Linked DNA regions of Homo sapiens. The protein of the gene in region 6 purifies or fractionates together with the protein of the main gene of each other region. This does not show direct contact. Each region holds a gene or a part of one and is shown on either strand. Other genes may lie near its edges.

Region 1 (3,500 bases), about 55 Mb from region 6:
TCTTAAAGTCTGAAATGACCTTGTTTCTCTCACTCTGATCCATATCCCCATGGAGCAGCCCAAGATTATGACCCTCCTGTTTAAGGTTATTCGCTAGCTCTTCAGCATTGGCTTTTTTAGTAACAAAGAGGAGGACACTCCCTGAAGAGGTAAATTCTACCAGACGCCGGGTAAGCCAGTTCCATTTACTAGGTCCAGAATGGAGAATCTCCACAATCTGTGTCACATCTTCATTTGCCTGAGAAGGAAGAAATGAAACAGATGATTGTGACATTGGAGCCACAGGGCACCTGAACAAGGACTAGGCATTATATTTCTACCTGCATCGAGAAGACCTTGAACAATCCCAGTTCTCCTTGGGCCTTCAGCAAGTCAAGTGCAGCTCAAAACTCACCTCTCCTTTCCAATCACCTTGCTCTCCACCTGGTGTACATACCTAATTTGTATGCCCCACTACTTTGTAGAGCTTTCCTTAACAATAACCATGGCAAGCAACTGAAGGATTCTCTAAGCAGCCATAACTGAATTCCAAGTCCCAATTCAGAGTAATTTTTCACATAGCGCATATGTACAGGTAAGAAATGAAACCTGATTTTTTCCAGGCCTTCCAGGTCACCCTTTCCCTCCTGCGTAGGCCCCTACCACAATAATTAAAACGTCAGTTCCAACCTAATACGCTGATGCTTCCAGGCACATCTTTTTGTCTCTTTGAAGCCTTTTTAAAACAATTGTAAGTTTTGAGACATTCAATAAAACAAAAAAAACACAAAATGAACAAAATCAACTCATACCCATCACCTAGCTTCAATGATTCCCAACATTTTGCCAGTCTTGTTACGTCTATCCCCACAACTTGCAAAATACCCAATCTCAAGCATGTTGCATCTATAAACATAACATCTTTTTTTTTTATCTCAATAGTGAGAAATTAATTCTGTGTTCCATAATATGAGAAATAAACCCATTAAGGTCCCATCCAGCCCTGCTTAGGGTTACCTCTCCAATATCTCCCTGCACCACTCGAATAGGGTCGATCAGGATGTCTCTGGCCAACTTTTCAATCTTCTTCCGAAAAGTTGCACTAAATAAGAGAGCTAAAAGGTAAGATAAATTCTGTTAGAGAAACAATATGATATCTTTATGCATACCCATTAAGCTTCTTTGGCATTCAGGATTATTCAGTTTTTTTACATAAGCTCACCTGAACTTTAAATTTAGTTTAGAAACTGATTCACTAGGGAAAGATTTGCTCTTATTCTATTTTTATTACATTTTTAGTTAAGACAAGTTGTCAGTATGGTTCAGAAAAAGACTCTTGATTTCAAATCAGCAGATCTGTACTGTACACTGCTTCTACCCACTGATAAAACTGTATAATTTAGGGCAGTTTATTTAATTTCTGATCCTTGGTTTTATCATCTATAAAAAGGAACAAGTTATATCTAGTGCTAAGATCCTGTCCAGCTCAGATAAACTCATTACCTCCCTTATTATGGTTCTCACCAACAGACACAAGATCATTTTTACTTCCATAACTCTGAGTGCTTATAAAATAAATAAGTGCCCTTTTTAGTACAAATTTGGTTTAACAAAGGTGCTTCATACATACTCTGCCTGTCAGGACGAACATGACTTGCTATGGATCGAACTTGGTACTCTGCAAGAAACAGAACAATAAAATTATTATAACCTGAAATACAGTTTGGGAAGCCTGGAAAAAGCCATATTAGTAAAAGTCTTCATAAGAAGTTGTAAGAATTAAGAAAATTAGAAACCCCAGGCCAGGCACAGTGGCTCATGCCTGTAATCCTAGCACTTTCGGAGGCCGAAGCAGGCGGATCACTTGAGGTCAGGAGTTCGCAGCCTGGTCAACACAGCTATCTCTACTAAAAATACCAAAAAAAAAAAAAAAAAAAAATAGCCAGGCTGTGGGGTAGGTGCCTATCACCCCAACTACTCAGGAGGCTGAGGCAGAAGAATCGCTTGAAACTGGAAGGAGGAAGTTGCAGTGAGATCGCACCGCTGCACTGCAGCCTGGGCAACAAAAGCAAAACTCTGTCTCAAGAAAAAAGAAGCTCCTAAACATATCATTCAGCATAAAAGTGAAAAATTTTCCCTCCATCCAACTGGGCTAGGTCTAGCAGTGTTCCAATCAGTAAAGACAGCTACGAGGATAGGAAAGCAAAGGGCCTCGAATGATCTGACATTCATCTACCCAAGAACACAGACCTTAACCTCTATGATCAAAGGCATATGGATAAAAATGAAGACAGAGAAAATATTCCCCTTATATACAAAGGCACTTTGAAATTTCCTCAACCCAATAAAACCTAACATACTTTTCCAGAGAAAACTCCTAAAAATGTTCATCTTAGCTATATTTCTATAGTCTAACCCCATCCAGGAGTATTTTTAGCTTCTCTCATGCTGAAAAAACAGTCTAGAAAGACATGGAAAAAAAACTAGTATCATGAGGATGGGGACAGAAGAAACTGGTATTCAAGGCATACCAAATCCCATGTCAAACATTCGATCTGCTTCATCAAACACAAGGTAAGAGACTCTTTGAAGATTGGTAGCTTTCTTTTTCACATGATCTATCAGTCGACCCTATAAGATCAACAAAATGAACAGTAAGTATAATTAAAGGCATTCACAGGGACTTTCTAAGCAGTTGCACTCCTGGCAAAAGTGCTAATTCTCTAGTCTCAGACTGTAATAGATACTGGTCCAACAGCCACATACCTTATGCACTACTTAGCTCAAAGGAACAGAAATTTTGAAAACTCAATCGGCATCTTCATTTACACTGTGATTTAAATTCTGTGGGAAAGTGGCCAGAAGCAGTTTTTGAGGCATTCTAAAGTGACCTGATTTAAAGCATAATGACAGGTTTCAATGTTTAAACTACACTCTTCTAGGCTATTCTGACCATATGTATCTTTCTGATTCTTGATGAACTTGGCAATCATTTTGTGGGAGAGTATAAGAAAAACTATTTGACATAGAGGGGAATTTGTAGCTACTAGCCTATATGTCACAGAGACTCTCACTGAACTGCTAATTTAGCCACCAATCAAAATTAAAACCACAGCCTGCCGTTCATCAGTATATTTTCAACCCTGCTTTTACCACACTTTAGGGGAAATTCTCTGCAAAACTAATCATGTTTTCCATACCGAGGGAGGCTGAGAAGCCATTTAAACACAAGGCATACTTACTGGGGTACACACAACAATCTCTGCCCCCTCCTGAAGGGCCTTGGCCTGCTCCCACATACTCCCTCCTCCATATACGGCCACTGATCGAAGATTATATGCTTTTCCAAACCGCTTACATTCTGCATGGATCTACAAAGTTGTGAATAATATATTAACAAACTGTGACACTAACAAATACCTGTCACAACCCAAACGAAGTTCTGAAAAACAGAATGTGATGTCATAAAAAATCGAAACCTAGAACATACTTTAAAACCACGATTTTATTCATAAAGGTAT
Region 2 (3,500 bases), on a different chromosome or scaffold from region 6:
TGGATTATCTATAGCACTGGTAAACAATTGCAGAGGCAAATTAATATCAGGACAAAGAGCACTGGGTTCCACATGATAATCTAAAGGGCAGAAAAAGCTTTCAATAAAATCTAACACCCCTTCATGTTAAAAGTTCTCAATAAACTAGGTATTGAAGGAGCATACCTCAAAATAATAAGAGCCATCTGATAAAGCCACAACCAACATCATACTGAATGCGCCAAAGCTGGAAGCATTCCCTTTTAAAACCGACACAAGACAAGAATGCCCTCTCTCACCACTCATATTCAACATAGTATTAGAAGTCCTGGCCAGAGCAATCAGACCAGAGAAAGAAATAGAGGGCAACCAAGCAAGAGGAGAGGAAGTCAAACTATCCTTGTTTGCAGATGACATGATCCTATATCTAGAAAATCCAATAGTCTCGGCCCAAAAGCTCCTTAATCTGATAAATAACTTCAGCAAAGTCTCAGTGTACAAAAATCAACATACAAAAGTCACTAGCATTCGTATACACCAACAACAGTCAAGCCAAGAGCCAAATCAGGAAGGCAATCCCATTCAGAACTGCCACAAAAGAATAAATATCTAGGAATACTGTTAACTAGGGAAGCGAAAGATCTCTACAAGAAGAACTACAAATCACTGCTCAAAGAAATCAGATATGACACAAACAAATGGAGAAACAGTCCATGCTCATGAATAGGAAGAATCAATATTGTTAAAATGGTGATACTGCCCAAAGCAATTCATAGAATAGACTCAATGCTATTCCTATCAAACTACCAATGACATTCTTCACAGAACTAGGAAAAACTATTTTAAAATTCATATGGAAACAAAAAAACAGCCTGAATAACCATGGCAATCCTAAGCAAAAAGAACAAAGCTGGAGGCATCATGCTACCCAACTTCAAATGATACTAGAGGGCTCCAGTAACCAAAACAGCATTGTACTGGTACAAAAACAGACACAGAGACCAATGGAGCAGAATAGAGAGCCCAGAAATAAGGCCACACACCTACAACCATCTGATCTTTGACAAAGTCGACAAAAACAAGCAATGGAAAAAGGACTCCCAATTCAATAAACAGTGCTGGGATAACTGGTTAGCCATATGTAGAAGATTGAAACTGGACCCCATCCTTATCTCACATATAAAAATCAACTCTATATGTATTAAAGACTTAAATGTAAAAGTAATGTAAAACTCAAAATTATAAAAACCCTCAAAGAAAACCTACGTAATACCATTCTGAACATAGGAATGGACAAAGATTTCATAACAAAGACGCCAAAAGCAATTGCAACAAAAGCAAAAATTGACAAATGAGATCTAACTAAACTAAAGAGCTTCTGCACAGCAAAAGAAACTATCGAGTTAACAGGCAACCTACGGAACCAGAGAAAATATTTGCAAACTATGCAACTTACAAAGGTCTAATATCCAGCATCTATAAGGAACTTTAACAAATTTACAAGAAAAAAAACAACCCCATTAAAATGTGAGCAAAGGATATGAAGAGACACTTTTCAAAAGAAGACATACATGTGGCCAAGAAGCATATATAAAAAATTTACATCATTAGAGAAATGCAAATCAAAACCACAATGAGATACCATCTCACACAAGTCAGAATAGCTATTATTAAAAAATCAAAAAAAAATAATAACAGATGCTAGTGAGATTGCAAAGAAAAGGGAACCTTTATACACTGTTGGTGGGAGTGTAAATTAGTTCAACCATGGTAGAAAACAGTGTGGCAATTTCTCAAAGACCTGAAAACAAAACTACCATTCAACCCAGCAATATCATTATGGGGTATATATCCAAAGGAATATAAATCATTCTATCATAAAAATACATAAACGCGCATGTGCATTGAAGCACTATTCACAATAGCAATGACATGGAATCAACCTAAATGCCAGTCAATGGTAGACTGGATAAAGAAAATGTATGTTAGTATGCAGCCATAAAAAACAACAAGATCATGTCCTTTGCAGGAACATGAATGGAGTGGAGGTCATTATCCTTAGCAAACTAATGCAGGAACAGAAAATCAAATGCCAGACTGGGCATGGTAGCTCACACCTGTAATCCCAGCACTTTGGGAGGCCAAGATGGACGCATCCCTTGAGGCCAGGAGTTCAAGACCAGCCTGGACAATATAGCGAAACCCCATCTCTACTAAAAACACAAAAATTAGCCAGGCAAGGTGGTGCACACCTGTAATCCCAGCTACTTTGGTGGCTGAGGCACGAGAATCGCTTTAACCCGGGAGGCAGAGGTTGTAGAATACCACATGTTCTCACTTATAAGTGGGAATTAAATGATGAGAACACACAGACACATAGAAGGTGGAGGGTGGGAGGAGGGAGATGATCAGGAAAAAATATTTTAATAACTAATGGGTACTAGGCTTAATACCTGGGTGATAAAATGATCTGTACAATGAACCCCCATGACATGAGTTTACCTTATGACAAACCTGCACATGTACCCCTGAACTTAAAATAAAAATTAAAAACAAAGAAGAACACTGGATTCCAAGCCTAGCATGTAGCTGGTCAAATCTACAACCTTGGATAACTCCTGTCCTTTTCCTGGGCCTTAGTTTCCCTTACCTGTGCAAAGGCAGGAATGGGATGGAGGGCAGCCAATTAAACTAGATAAATGGTCCAAAGACCATTTCAGTGCTGATGTCGGTGGTTCTATATACTGCCTTGCATTGCTAATGCTTCCTATATTTATGTCTCATTGGCTTCCTTAGGCTCAAGAGGGGAAGGGGGCCTCAGTAGAGGTGGGTATGGGTGGCATAGAGGGGCTACCAAAGCCAACTCAGTGGGAGGACAAAGGTGCAGAAACAGGCCCAGACCAAAATAAGAGACAGCCACACACATGATTTCACGGGCACTAGAAAAAATACCACCTTTACAAATAGATCCTCGAAGCTAGGTCAATGATAGCTGAAATTTCATAATTAGAGATTTAGTCCTTTGGCTGAAAACTCAGTAGTAATGGTAGCAGTAGTAATAGTAACAGGCAGCAGCTTTCCTGTATCAAGACTTGCTACTCACCAGGCACTTCATATGTACTACCTCATTTAATATCAATAATCACCCTGTGAAGTAGAGTATTATCTCCACATTGGAGATAAAGAAATAGGTATTTGTCTAAAGTCACATTGCTATTAAGCAGGGGAGACAGGGTTTGAATCCAGGTCTAAATCCAAACCTCACAATGTAAACCAATATGCTAAATTCCTCTTACAGAGTACAAAAGTCTCCCATTAAAAGAAAAAAAAGATTGATTTTTAGTTGTTAGATATTTTGCTTAAATAATGTATATAGTACAGCCACAAAATGGCTTCTTATATGGTCATACAAAATCTTTATGAAGACTATTTCATGCTCACGGAAGACACTTTAGTAATATTGAGGAAATGTAAACAGTATTTCATAGAGTCCGTGAGCTCAACTTTGTAAAATGTATACA
Region 3 (3,500 bases), on a different chromosome or scaffold from region 6:
GGATAAATTTATCAGAAACAAACCACAAGTCACCCATATGAAATAGATAATTGGAACAGTCCTATAAAAACTTTTAGGTTAACTAAATTCATAACTGTAAATCTCCTAATAAAGAAATCTCCAGGCCCAGACCGTTTCACTGGTGAGTTCTACCAAATACTTAAGAAAAGTTAACACCAATTATACACAATATCTTCTAAAAAACAGAAGAGGATGCAATGCTTCCTAATTCATTTTATGAAGTATTACTCTGATGCCAAACCAAAGATAGCACAAAAAGAAAATTAGACTCATATTCCTCATGAATATAGACACAATAACCCATAACAAAACATTAGAAGATAGAATTAAGAGATACACTATATGACAAAGTAGGGCTCATGCAAGACTGTCTCAATACTTGAAAATCAATCATATTAATCATATAAAATCACCATATTAACAGGCTAAGGAAGAAAAATCATATAATCCTATCAATCAACACAGACAAAACATCTGACAAAAAGTTAATATTGAAAGTTAATGATAAAAAAATTTCAGAAAAATAGGAATACAACAGAACTTTCATAACTTGACAAAGATCATCTACCAAAAATTTACAGTTAACATTATACTTAATGATGAAACAACAGATACTTTTCCCTTAAAATGGGAAACAAGGCAAGGATGTCCACTCTCACTACTCTTATTCAACACAGTGCGGAAGTTGCAGCCAGTGAAATATAGCAAGAAAAGGAGATAAAAGGCATACAGATAGAAAAGGGAGAAATAAAACTCTCCGTATCTGCAGATAAATAAAACCTCCATATTTGAAGATGATTGTCCACATTAAAAAAATGACAATCTATCCAAAAATACTCCTAGAACTGAGTCCAGCAATGTCACAGAATACAAGATAAACATAAAATTAACTGTATGTCTAGATTCTAGTAATGAACACCAAAATTATATATAATCACTTTATTCTAAAATTTACATGGAAAGACAAATGAGTTAGAATATCTAAAAACAATTGTGAAAATAAAGGATAAAGTAGGAGGAATGAGTCTGCCCAATTTCAGACTTAAACAGCTACAGCTTAAGACAGTGGGACTGACAGAGGAACATACATATAGATCACATACAGCTCAATCTAACACAGTGGGGAACTTAGAAATAGACTCACACAAATACGCTCAACTGATTTTTAAGAAAGGTGCAAAAGCAATTCAATGAGAAAAGATAGGTGCCAGAACACCCGAACATACTATCCACCCCACAAAAAGGAACCTCAAGTTAAATCTCACACTTGACATAAAAATTCAAAATGCATCACAGACTTAAATGTAATATGTAGGCCAGGTGCTGTGGCTCACGCCTGTAACTCTAGCACTTCAGGAAGCCAAGGCCGAAGGACTGCTTGAGGTCAGAAGTTCGAGACCACCCTAAGCAATACGGAGACACCCCCACCTCTACAAAAAATTTTAAAAATTAGCCAGGCATGGCAGCATGGATGTGTAGTCCCATCTACTTGGGAGGCTGAGGCATAAGGATCACTTGAGCCCAGGACTTTGAGGTTACAGTGAACTGTGACTGTGCCACTGTACTTCAGCCTGGGTGACAGAATGAGACCCTGTCTCTAAATAAAAAATAAATGTAATATGTAAAACAATATTACTTTTATTTATTTTTTAAATAGGAGAGAGTCTTTGAGATCTAGGACTAGGCAAAGAGTTAATAAGACCTGAAACTAAAAGCATGATCCATAAAAAGCGGTAAATTAGACTTAATCAAAATGAAATATTTTGGTTCTATGAAAGACCCTATTAAGAAAATGAAAACTACATACTGGGAGAAAATATGTGTAAACTACATATCTGACAAAGATTGCCAGATTTGTGATCATCAGGGATCATGGAAGGGTGGGGGTGGGGTTAGTATGGCCATAAGATAGCAACATAAGGGATCCTTGGAATCCATGAAAATGTTCTATCTCTCTCTCTCTCTTTTTTTTTTTTTTAAAGAGATAGGGTCTCACTTTGCTGCCCAAGCTAAGTGTAGTGGCACGATCATAGCTCACTGCAACCTTGAACTCCTGGGCTCAAACAATACTCTTGCCGCAGACGCCTGAGCTGACAGGGGCACAACATCATGCCAAGGTAGCTTTTAAATTTCTTGTAGAGACCAGAACTTACCATATTGTCCAGGCTGGTCTAGCCTCAAGGGATCCTGTGGCCTCAGACTCCCAAAGCACTGGGATTAAAGGTTCCCTATCTTAACTGTCAGTATCATGGTTGTGATGTTGTAGCATAGTTTTGACAAAATGTTTCCATCAATGGAAACTTTGTAAAAGGTACAAAGAATCTCATTTCTTAGGATTGCATGTCAATCTACAATTATCTCAAAACTAAAAGTTTAATGAAGACTTTTTTTTTTTTTTTGAGACAGGGTCTCTGTTGCCCAGGCTGTAGTTCAGTGGCACAAAAAAACAGCTCACTGCAACCTTGACCACCCAGGCTCAAGAGATCCTCCCACCTCACCTTCCCAAGTAGCTAAGACCACAGACACATGCCACCAGGCCTAGCTAATTTTTTTTTTTTTTTTGTAGAGATAGGGTCTCTCTATGTTGCCCAGGCTAATCTCAAGATCTTTAGCTCAAGTGATCCTCCCACCTCAGTCTCCCAAAAGTGATGAAAAAAAATTTTTTAATCAATAGTGAGGCTGGTTGAGGTGCCTCACGCCTGTAATCCCAGCACTTTGGGAGGCTGAGGCGGCTAGATTGCTTGAAGCCAGGAGTTCGAGACCAGCCTGGGCAACGTGGCGCAACCCCACCTCTACAAGAAATAAAGTAGCCAGGCGTGGTGGTGCATGTCTATAGTCCCAGCTACTGCAGAGGCTGAGGTAGGAAAATCACTTGAGCCCGGCAGACAGAGGCTGCAGTGAGCCGAGATCACGCCACTGTACTCAAGCCTGGGCAACAGAGTGAGACCTTGTCTCTAAATAAATAAACTGTGAAAAGCACAATCATGACCAATTACCACAGATTTCTTAAGTGTGAAATACCTAAGCCTCAACCACATTAACTAAATATTAAATTAAAATACTAATTTTAACTTTCTACTGTAAATATGTCTTAAAAGAGTCATATTTCCAGAGCTACTGGTATTAATAAAAGTCACATGATTACAACTGCAAGCTAAATATACAATGACGAATTATTACTAAAATTTTGAGGTCTAATTTAGGTATTTATGCTGCCCTGACAAAAAGCCTGAATTTTCTTAATCAAGAGAGTTGTTAAACCAATGAATAACGTGCACCTTCTACTTGCAAACACTATTCTGAAAAGTTTCGTATCTATATTCTTCATCTCTAACACTGAGGCTACATATGAGTCTAGAAGGGAAACAACAGAAGTTCACTCAGCTACTGGGATAAATCCAAGTGAGATGACTCCATATCAATCTAACTCACTGATAAAAAATACCTATTTAAGATAAACCACTTGTTTCTCATCTCTT
Region 4 (3,500 bases), on a different chromosome or scaffold from region 6:
TCATTAAAAAAACTCAAAAGAAACAACAATTAACTGGAGCCTCATCTCGATGCTGCTAATAACTAGCACAGAGGCAAAAAGGAAAAGTTAAAGGGCATCCCAACTTCTGCACTAGACAATCAAGTAGCAAGTCAGTATGATTTGATTGTTTTCTCCATGTACATACAAGTTCTATAGGGTAATCACTGGGCCGAATGCGGTGGCTCACGCCTGTAATCCCAGCACTTTGGGAGGCTGAGGCGGGCAGCTCACCTTAGGTCAGGAGTCCTAAACCAGCCTGACCAACATGGTGAAACCCTGTCTCTGCTAAAAATACAAAATTAGCCAAGCGTGGTGGCGGGCGCCTGTAACCCCAGCTACTCAGGAGGCTGAGGCAGGAGAATTGCTTGAACCCAGGAGGTGGAGGTTGCGGTGAGCCAAGATCGCGCCATTGCACTCCAGCCTAGGCAACAAGAGTGAAACTCTGTCTCAAAAAAAAATAAAAAATAAATAAAAAATAAAAACAATTAAAATTACCTAGTGTTCACTGTATTATACATAAAAATATAAAGAAACTCCCATGTTATTTAGCTCTATTAAATTTTAAGTGAAATTAATCCTCTAACATTTATTCTCAATAGAAAGGAAATTACATTATCTAACATATTGATTAGTACAGGCAACAAAAAAACAGAATAGTATTTATACTTAGTTTTCACATTTTTATTTAAAAAAAATTTTTTTTTAGAGAAAGGGTTTCATTCTGTCACCCAGGCTGGAGTACAGTGGTGAGCTCAAAGCTCACTATAGTCTTGAACTCCTAGTCTCAAGCAATCCTCCCACTTCAGCCTCCAGAGTAGCTGAGACTACAGGAACGTGTCACTGTCCCCAGCTGAAAACATCTTTTTGATATCAAAAGTCTGATTTCGTTGTAAATTTTCACAATTCCAGACATTAAGAGGGCAATTAAGAGACATAGATCACATAATCACATTTTCCAGTCATTTATCTTTAAGGGTTGGTAGTTACTTCTTGATCTTCATTACACCTTCTTACAACCTTTGTCCTATTTTCTTTCTTCTTTTTCTATTTAATCCCAACACTTCTCTCCATTTCCCTTCTCCTCCCACCTCTTCTCACCTGTTACCTTTCCTATGTGGCAGGACATCGACCACCAAATTACTAACTTAACACACACAAAAAACATTTTAAGACAACAATTAAAAACTGACCGAGTTCTGAATTAGTAGCTAGCTTGGCAGTTTTCTAGTTAAACTAATTACTCTAACTGGAAAAATAAAATTATATGCACACACATGGTCTGCTTACAACTTTAGTATCCCTCCATCAAAAAATAGGAGAGAAAAAGAGAAAAAAAGAAAAAGCAGTACTTCTCAGGACTCAATGACTATGAGAAAACTGGTACTTGTAGCATCTTTGTTTAGTTTAAATGATTCCTTTGATGTCGTTAATGACCTTGGATGTTTTAAATGCTCTGAGTCAACAAGTAATATGTCATAAGTTCTAAGTTATTTATAATATCACTACTGAAACCACACTTGTATAGCCACCTTTGGGAAGATGGGAAGGACTAGCACTTTTATCCCTATTTACATAGAAATGGAGACACAGCTAGTAAGTGGCAGAAATGGGAAGACCATAGGTTTCTGGAGGCCTTGTCTACAAATACCTGGTTTAAGTAAATATACAAGACAATTCTGATCCATCAAGAAATGGGGAACTGCTACAATCTCCCATCATAGTTTAATGAGGGCTGCAAAAGGATTAAAATGTATTGACAAGTTTATGTCATTGATTTTCTCTCAAGAGTAATGGCAAATGGTGTTCATTCAGCACAATGAGTAGTCAATAAATAATGTTAACTTATTCTTATAAGAATATTCAGTCTGTCCAGAACTAAGTCCTCTCTTAGAGCTACCCCCTATTACCCAACTCAAACATTTCTACAACCAAGTCTGCTTAAGAAGACAAAGAGGATGCTTCACCTGCCAAAAACCTGACTGTCTTTGGAAGGAACTGTGTATGTGTGCTAGGATTAGCAGGAAGGTTTGATTAGGATAAACCACGTTTCCTACTCACCATACTGTGATGAGAAAATGTGTTCCCTGAAGCAGGCTGTGATATGGCAGTCTGCTTCGAATTACTGAACACCAGAGGCTGGGCCAGAGAAGGAGCCTGAGACGGATCCAGATTAGATGAATCATTCTCCATTGTAGATGGTGTCTTCCCCAGCAGAACAGCAAGGTCAATTCTAATGGGGAAGGGAAGGGATCTTCATGAAGAATGACTGAACACGCTAACATTCCCCAACACTCAAATCAGATTAGATCAAAATGAAGCCACTTGCTGGGGCTTCTTCTAAAAGGGTTCAAACACAAAAGCCTTGAAATGCTTAAATGTCCCAAAATAACTGATGCATAAGAGTCACTACAGTATATAGCTGAATTCCACTGATGTTGCCAATAATAATGGTTAATTTTTTAAGTGAAGTTATTAATTTAATGAAATATCAAATGCTAGTTTTTGTTTGTTTGTTTGTTTCGAGAAAGTCTCGCTCTGTCACCCAGGCTGGAGTGCAGTGGTGCAATCTTGGCTCACTGCTAGCTCTGCCTCCTGGGTTCACGCCATTCTCCTGCCTCAGCCTGTAGCTGGGACTACAGGTGCCTGCCACCACGCCCGGCTAATTTTTTTTTTTTGTATTTTTAATAGAGAAGGGGTTTCACGTGTTAGCCAGGATGGTCTCAATCTCCTGACCTCATGATCCGCCCGCCTTGGCCTCCCAAAGTGCTGGGATTACAGGCGTTAGCCACCGCACCGCACCCGGCCTCAAATGCTAGTTTTAACATGGCAGCTCAATAACTCAGCCAAAACTTACAAGTACTTATCCATGATTTTAATACTGAATACCTGTCATTACCAATTCCTAAAACAGAAAATCATATACCAGAACACTGGAATCTTCAAATGGCTTTAGAACAGGGGCAGTCTGAGAGATATTTTTTCCCACAATTTTCGTAAAATTTCAAAAGTTACCTGTGGTATAATATATACTTGAGCTTTGCCTTGTTCCTGGCATGGAGCTCCTAAAACATTTAGAATTTCCTAAGTGATAGTGTCCTTTGTTACTCATAACACACTTCTTTCAACCATACCTGAATGCTAATGAGGTAGCCCAGGGTGGGGCCCCAGATAGTTTCAGGATGAGGGTTGGTCACTAGAAAGACCAGATAAGGCTGGATGCAGTGGCTCACACCTGTAACTCGGCACTTTGGGAGGCCAAAGCAGGCGGATACTTGAAGTCAGGAGTTTGAGACCAGCCTGGCCAACATGGTAAAACCCTACTAAAAATACAAAACTTAGCCTGGCGTGGTGGCGGGTGCCTACTATACCAGCTACTCGGGAGGCTGAGGCAGGAGAATCGCTTGAACCTGGGAGGCGGAGGTTGCAGTGAGCCAAGATTGTGCCACTGCCCTCCAGCCTGGGCAACAGAGTGAGACTCT
Region 5 (3,500 bases), on a different chromosome or scaffold from region 6:
ACCAGGAGTCAAAGAAATACATAAATAATTTTACAGAATTTAAATATATATTTCATTTTACTGACTAGAACTGATATTCTAATACTTATTTGTAACCCTGATGTCACCTATGCTATACTTTTCTAGAGTAAGTTTTTCTCCACAAATTCAACTCATAGTATTGATTTCAGACAAGACCATAGGAGACAAAAATAATTTAAAACAAAATTTTTTTAGGCCAGACACAGTGGTTCAAGCCTATAATCTCAGCACTTTGGGAAGCAGAGGCGGGGGATCACTTGAGCCCAGGAGTCCGAGACCAGCCTGGGCAACATAGTGAGAGAGACTCCATCTCCATACACATACGGAAAAAACTGTTTTAAGTAAACACAGTGATTCTTTTCCTTCACATTTGTTTCAGATGAATATGAAGCATACTACATATATATTCCTCAGACTTTAGGATAAACAAAACAGGATCAGAGAAAAATGGATATGAACAAAGGTATGGTGATCTAGGCGTAAAGCACATTTTCAATACTAAACTGAGTAGTTAAATACATTAGATAATCGGATGTGGAACACTAGATTTTTTTTCTTTCTTTTTTTTTTTTTTTTGAGACAGCATCTCACTCTGTCACCCAGCTGCAGTGCAGTGGCGTCAAAATCACAGTTCCACTCAACCTCCTGGGCTCAGGAGATATTCCCATCTCAGCCTTCGAAGTAGCTGGGATCACAGGCACACGCCACCACACCCAGTTAATTTATTTTTATTTTTAATAGAGATGGGGTCTCCCTACATTGTCCAGGCTGCTCAAACTCCTGGGCTCAAGTAATTCTGTCTCTGCCTCCCAAAGTCCTAGGATTACAGGTGTGAGTCACCTCACCCAGCCAAGATTCTTAACAAGAGTGACACTAAAGATTTTGAAAAATATCGTTTAAGAAATGTTTATGATAAATGTATATAACTATTATGTACCCATGATAATTAATAAAAATAAATTTTTAAAACAAAGTAATATTTAGAAGGAGTAATCTGATGGTAGGTAAAACTAGGAGAAAAGGATGGGATACATTAAAAGTTAATTCAGGCTGGGTGTTGTGGCTCACGCCTGTAATCCCAGCACTTTGGGAGGCCGAGGTAGCGGATCACTTGAAGTCAGGAATTCAAGACCAGCCCGGCCAACATGGTGAAACCCCGTCTCTACTAAAAACACAAAAATTAGCCGGGCGTGGTGGCACACACCACCACTCAGGAGTCTTGTAGTAGGGTAGTCCCACCTACTCGGGAGAATTGCCTGAACCCAGAAGGCAGGGGTTGAAGTGAGCCAAGATCATGCCACTGTACTCCAGCCTGGGCAACAGAGCCATACTGTCTCAAAAAATAAAATAAAAGTTAACTTAAATAATAATTTAGGCATTAGGACATAAAGTTTAGAGCACTTTGGGAGGCCAAAGCAGGAGAATCACTTGAGCCCAAAGTTCAAGATCAGCCTGCGTAACACAATGAGACCCTGTCTCTGTTTTTTAAAAATTATTTTAAAATATAGAAAAAAGAATTTTAAAAAGTTTAGAGTAGGCCGGGCGTGGTGGCTCACGCCTGTAATCCCAGCACTTTGGGAGGCCAAGGCAGGCAGATCACCTGAGGTCAGGAGTTCAAGAACAGCCTGGACAACGTGGTAAAACTCCATATCTACTAAAAATACAAAAATTAGCCAGGAGTGGTGGCACACGCCTTTGGTCCCAGCTACTTGGGAGGCTGAGGCAGGAGAATCGCTTGAACCCAGGAGGTGGGGGTTGCAGTGAGCCAAGATCACGCCATTGCACTCCAACCTGGGCCACAGAGCGAGACTCTGTCTCAAAAAAAGAAAAAAAAAAAAGTTTAGACACTAGCAGTAGAAATAAAGGAAAAAAGAAACACAGGCATCACTTTGTAAAACTAATAGGGCTGCACTAAATATATGTACATGTACTTGCATACAAAGAAAAAATTCTAATGGGATATACTCTAAAATGTTAACAGGATTATCTCTTTATTTCCTGTCCGTCCTCTTCCAATTTTTTGATAATTTAAAAAGTACATATTTATAAGGAGAGGGAAAAAATGGTAACATTATAAAATTAGCAAGACTTTATAGGCTGGGTGCAGACTCTTGCCTATAATCCTAGCACTTTGGGAGGCCAAGGCAGGAGGATCCCTTGAGCTCAAGCCTGAGCAACATAGCAAGACCTCATCTCTACAAAAAATCAAAAGGAAAATTCACTGGGCGTGGTGGCACTGTAGTCTTGGTAAGGTGGAAGGATCACTTGAGCCCAGGACATGGAGGCTGCAGTGAGCTATGATTGTACCACTGCACTCCAGCCTAGCCTAGGTGACAGAGTAAAAACCTATCTTGGGGTTGGGGGGGACTATAACTAACTGAACAAAGGGGAAAAGGACAAGTCAAAGACTAAGGTTTTAAGCCTATTAGAAACTAAAAGTATGGCATAAACTAATAAAACCAAAATAAAACTAAACTAAATTATGGCACCACTGCACTCCTGGGCAACAGAGGGGACTCCGTTTCAAAAACAAAGAACTAGATAAATGTTTCTTGAGGTAATTAATATTTGTTGTTTGTTAGGGTGGAAAGAAAAGGACCCTCACCTACAGTGCTGGAAACAATGTATAATCTTTCAGTAGGGCAAACTGACACTACAAAAATTTTTATACATTGTATACTCTGGGCACAGCAATTCCACCTATAGGAACTTGTATTAAAATGCTTATATAAGTGCACTATATATGTACAAGACTATCCCATGAAACATAATGTACAATATAATAAACTAGAACAACAACCCAAATAGCTATCAATAAAAAGCTGGTTAAATAAACTACAGTAACTACACAAATACCATGTGGCAAATTAAAATAATAAGAAATCCAAAAAATAATAAAGGGAAGTATGGAAAGATGTCCAATACATACTGTTACATGATAAAGGCAAGCTGTGCAACAGTAGCATAGCAAGATATGATTTTTTAAATAAAAATACCTCAATGCTAGTTTATGTGCACAGAAAAATGTCTGGGTCACTATAAACCAAACATTTATCAATGGTTATCTCTGGGTGGGATTACAGAGTAGTTTTCACTTTCCACATACATTTCTGTACTGTCTTAATTTTTACCATGGGAATTTATTATAATATCTTTGGGTTTCTTCATTTTTTTTTTTTTGAGATGGAGTCTCACTCTGTCACCCAAGCTGGAGTGCAACGGCACGATCTCAGCTCACTGCAACCTCCACCTCCCGGGTTCAAGCAATTCTGCCTCAGCCTCCCAAGTGAGTAGCTGGGACTACAGGTGCACGCCACCATGCCCGGCTGATTTTTGTGTTTTTAATAGAGACGGGGTTTCACCATGTTGGCCAGGATGTTTTCGAACTCCTGACCTCAAATGATCCACCCAACTCGGCCTCCCAAAGTGCTAGGATTACAGGCCTGAGTCAACACGCCCAGCCTCTAATACCTTTGTAA
Region 6 (3,500 bases):
TTACTTATCTATTTTGCTCATTCTTTATCGTCTGCCTCCTCTGCTAGAACGTAGCTCCAGCAAGGAAGGAAGTGTGATATATTTGATTCACAGTCCCTAGAACAGCGAGTGGCACTTTGTAGGTGCTTAATAAATATTTATTGAATGAATAAATGAAACACGGCCAGGCGCAGTGGCTCACGCCTGTAATCCCAGCACTTTGGGAGCCTGAGGCAGGAGGATCACTTGAGCTCGGGAGTTCAAGACCAGCCTGAGCAACATAGTGAGACCCCCCACCTCCATTAAAAAAAAAAAAGAATAGAAATAAGGCCTGGCACCAGAGGCTCATGCCTGTAATCCCAGCACTTTGGGAGGTGAAAGGGGACGGATCACCTGAGGTTAGTTCGAGACCAGCCTGGCCAACATGGTGAAACCCCATCTCTACTAAAAATACAAAAATTAGCCAGACGTGGTGGTGGGCACCTGTAATCTCAGCTACTTGGGAGGTTGAGGCAGGAGAATCCCTTGAACCCAGGAGGCAGAGGTTGCAGTGAGCCGAGCTCACACCACTGCACTCTAGCCTGGCTGACAGAATGAGACTCTGTCTCAAAAAATAATAATAATAAATACAAAATAAATAAATGAAAGACTTTCTCACCTTCAGGGGTCTTGTGCAGGTGTTTGGGGGCAGCCCTGGACTCCAGACTCCGTCCTTCAGTCTTGGCAGGTGCAGACGACTCTGAACACAGTTCCTGGGAACAGTCTGGTTGGGGGTGGGTGACATTAAAGTGATTCTGTTTAGCTTCTCCCCCATATTCCTCTAAGACTCGCTTTTTCTTCCCTCATCCCCTCTAGGGGGATACTCACCACAGTCCTCATAGATGGTGTCTGGGGAGCAGGGAAGGGGGCCTGGGGTTGGGAAGGCTCCCAGCCAGCGCTGCATGTCTGATCTGGTGGGGATATTGGGAAGTGTCACAGTTGGCCCAAAAGATCCTCTGGGGCTGAGGCAGGAGCCACAGAAGAGAGAGACTGGGGAAGTGGGGGAGGTCTGAGAGGTCAGATAAGTGTCCCAAGGTTGTTTTCTGAGGGAAACACAACTCACAGGGAAGAAGCTTGGAGTAGTCGGTGGGTGGGGCGGCCCTGGTGGTTGCTGAGAAGGGAGAGGCGGAAGGTAGGGGGTCCAGATGGATCCGGAACCTGCTGGGCCTGGACCAGGGAGCGATGGGCATAGTCCAGAACCTGTAACCGCTGCCCACTGCCCAGGGATGAGGTCGTTCAGAAGGACAGCAGGGGTCCCGCTGGACCCCTCCTGCCCACTCCAGCCTGGGCTCCTTCCTTCCCTAGGACTCACCTCTTAGGCTGAGTGATGAGCAGCAGGTCGCTAAAGAGCAGCAGGCAAAGAGGGGTGAAGCGGGGGCGCGAGGCAAAGAGCACGCCCCCCCTCCGGCACCCTAACTCAGTCAGCTCTCCCTGGAATTCCAGGCGCCGTGACCAGGAGACCAGGGGCAGGGCCTGCGAGGAAGCGGAGGCAGAGGAGGTTCTAGCGTGGCAGCAGCAACATGGGGCAGGGCAAGATGGGGAGCCTGGGCAGCGATGTACCTTGACTTTGTGGAAGCGCAGCCTTTGGGTGAGCCGGATCAGCTCTTCAGTCTGCTTCATGCGCCCCACCTCAGCGCTGCAACGCTCGATGATCTAGGTAAGGGGAGCTGTGTCACCACCCCAGCGGCCAGCCCCCTGCTCCCTACCATTTCTCTCTACCACCTTGTCACCTCCCCCTGCTTCAGCTTCCCCACTGCCCACCTTGCTGACAGCACCCAGGGCCTTCTGGGCATTCTCCTGACGGCTGGACCCCTCTTCTGTCTGGCGCAGGATATTCTGGGGACAAGGAGGAAGGGTGACTGGGCCCCCTGCTCTGTGGCCCTGGGATTCAGAGGGGCCACAGCTCAGAGGACCCTGTCTGTTTCAGCCAGTTTCAACAAGGCTGACAGACCTCATCACTCACCATCTGCAGAACCCTGAGCAAGTCCTGTTACCTCTCTGAGCCTCAGCTTCCCTATCTGTAAAATGGGGCTAATACCCACCTAGCATATCAATAGCATTGTTTTGAGGATTCAAGAAGGCAATATATGTAAAGTGCTTAGCATAGTTCTTGGCACATATTAAATGTTGAAAAGAAGGTTCTTATTTTTTTTTCTTCCGGAGTCTGGCTCTGTCACCCAGGCTGGAGTGCAGGGGTGCGATCTCGGCTCACTGCAACCTCTGCCTCCCGGGTTCAAGTGATTCTCCTGCCTCAGCCTCCCAAGTAGCTGGGATTACAGACGTGTGCCACCACGCCCGACTAATTTTTTTGTATTTTTAGTAGAAGCGGGGTTTCACCATGTTGGCCAGGCTGGTCTTGAACTCCTGACCTCAGATGATCCACCCGCCTCGGCCTCCCAAAGTGCTGGGATTACAGGCATGAGCCACCGTGCCTGCCCCGAAGGTTCCTATTATTTTAATAATTATTAACCAAAACTGTTAGTGCAGGCAATATAGCAGAGTAGCTAAGAGTGCTTAGATTACAATTTTGTCTCCATCAATTATTTCTGTATGACCTGAGGCAAGTTATGTGACCTGTGCCTTAGCTTTCTCATGTCTAAAGTAGGACAAGTAATAGTTCCTACCCTCACATAGTTGCAGGTAAGGTTACACAGGTGTATAGCACTTAGAACCATTCCTAGAAAGCTTAATAGCTGTTGAGCTATTTTGATTAGTATCATTATTATTATTTTGTTGTCTACAATGGGGATAGATAAAGCTGAATAAGATCATAAAGACACTGATAATCTAGTTGGGAACTCTTCACATAAAGATCCCCTCATTCACTGGGCTCAGTAGCTCACACCTATAATGCTAGAGCTTTGAGAAGCTGAGATAGGAGGATTGCTTGAGGCCGGGAGTTCAAGACCAGCCTGGCCAACATAGTGAGACCCTGTCTCTATAAAAATAAAAATTAATAAATAGCCGGGCATGGTGGCATTGTAGTCCCAGCTACTCTAGAGGCTGAGGCACAAGGATCCCTTGAGCCCAGGAATTTGAGGCTGCAGTGAGCCGTGATCGTGCCAGTGCTCTAAAGATCCCCATATTGGGAGACCTGGTTAGAAAGGACTCTCTGCTTTGCTATAGAAGAGAGTGTCTTAGGCCGGGTGCAGTGGCTCACGCCTGTAATGCCAGCACTTTGGGTGACTGAGGCAGGTGGACTACATGAGGTCAGGAGTTCGATAGCAGCCTGGCCAACATGGTGAAACCCCATCTCTACTAATAATACAAAAATTAGCCAGGCATGGTAGTCCACACCTGTAATCCCAGCTACTCAGGAGGCTGAGGCAGGAGAATCGCTTGAACCCGGGAGGCAGAGGTTGCAGTGAGCCGATATTGCGCCACTGTACTCCAGCCTGGGAGTGAGACTCCGTCTCGAAGAAGGAGATGGAGAAGAGGAGGAGGAGGAGGAAGAAAGTGTCTCAAATCTCAAACTTTTTTTT

What was found.
Region 1: the proteins of ARHGEF15 (region 6) and DDX42 purify together in Homo sapiens (affinity purification with mass spectrometry, with the first as the bait; one large-scale study listed by BioGRID). This does not show direct contact.
Region 2: the proteins of ARHGEF15 (region 6) and MSN purify together in Homo sapiens (affinity purification with mass spectrometry, with the first as the bait; one large-scale study listed by BioGRID). This does not show direct contact.
Region 3: the proteins of ARHGEF15 (region 6) and SUGT1 purify together in Homo sapiens (affinity purification with mass spectrometry, with the first as the bait; one large-scale study listed by BioGRID). This does not show direct contact.
Region 4: the proteins of ARHGEF15 (region 6) and UBAP2L purify together in Homo sapiens (affinity purification with mass spectrometry, with the first as the bait; one large-scale study listed by BioGRID). This does not show direct contact.
Region 5: the proteins of ARHGEF15 (region 6) and CCNT1 purify together in Homo sapiens (affinity purification with mass spectrometry, with the first as the bait; one large-scale study listed by BioGRID). This does not show direct contact.

Annotation. Positions count from the first base shown.
Region 1 is NC_000017.11:63,808,670-63,812,169, reverse strand, and holds part of DDX42 (ATP-dependent RNA helicase DDX42), read right to left. Parts: intron 3,351-3,500; coding exon 3,222-3,350; intron 2,611-3,221; coding exon 2,511-2,610; intron 1,658-2,510; coding exon 1,610-1,657; intron 1,095-1,609; coding exon 997-1,094; intron 239-996; coding exon 1-238. UniProt on the Homo sapiens protein: ATP-dependent RNA helicase that binds to partially double-stranded RNAs (dsRNAs) in order to unwind RNA secondary structures. Unwinding is promoted in the presence of single-strand binding proteins.
Region 2 is NC_000023.11:65,712,654-65,716,153, reverse strand, and holds part of MSN (moesin), read right to left. Parts: intron 1-3,500. UniProt on the Homo sapiens protein: Ezrin-radixin-moesin (ERM) family protein that connects the actin cytoskeleton to the plasma membrane and thereby regulates the structure and function of specific domains of the cell cortex.
Region 3 is NC_000013.11:52,680,336-52,683,835, reverse strand, and holds part of SUGT1 (protein SGT1 homolog), read right to left. Parts: intron 1-3,500. UniProt on the Homo sapiens protein: May play a role in ubiquitination and subsequent proteasomal degradation of target proteins.
Region 4 is NC_000001.11:154,244,955-154,248,454, reverse strand, and holds part of UBAP2L (ubiquitin-associated protein 2-like), read right to left. Parts: intron 2,252-3,500; coding exon 2,080-2,251; intron 1-2,079. UniProt on the Homo sapiens protein: Recruits the ubiquitination machinery to RNA polymerase II for polyubiquitination, removal and degradation, when the transcription-coupled nucleotide excision repair (TC-NER) machinery fails to resolve DNA damage.
Region 5 is NC_000012.12:48,706,708-48,710,207, forward strand, and holds part of CCNT1 (cyclin-T1), read right to left. Parts: intron 1-3,500. UniProt on the Homo sapiens protein: Regulatory subunit of the cyclin-dependent kinase pair (CDK9/cyclin-T1) complex, also called positive transcription elongation factor B (P-TEFb), which facilitates the transition from abortive to productive elongation by phosphorylating the CTD (C-terminal domain) of the large subunit of RNA polymerase II (RNA Pol II).
Region 6 is NC_000017.11:8,316,741-8,320,240, reverse strand, and holds part of ARHGEF15 (rho guanine nucleotide exchange factor 15), read right to left. Parts: intron 1,900-3,500; coding exon of another isoform or gene 1,855-1,899; coding exon 1,780-1,854; intron 1,672-1,779; coding exon 1,579-1,671; intron 1,492-1,578; coding exon 1,331-1,491; intron 1,235-1,330; coding exon 1,082-1,234; intron 930-1,081; coding exon 847-929; intron 743-846; coding exon 638-742; intron 1-637. UniProt on the Homo sapiens protein: Specific GEF for RhoA activation. Does not activate RAC1 or CDC42. Regulates vascular smooth muscle contractility. Negatively regulates excitatory synapse development by suppressing the synapse-promoting activity of EPHB2.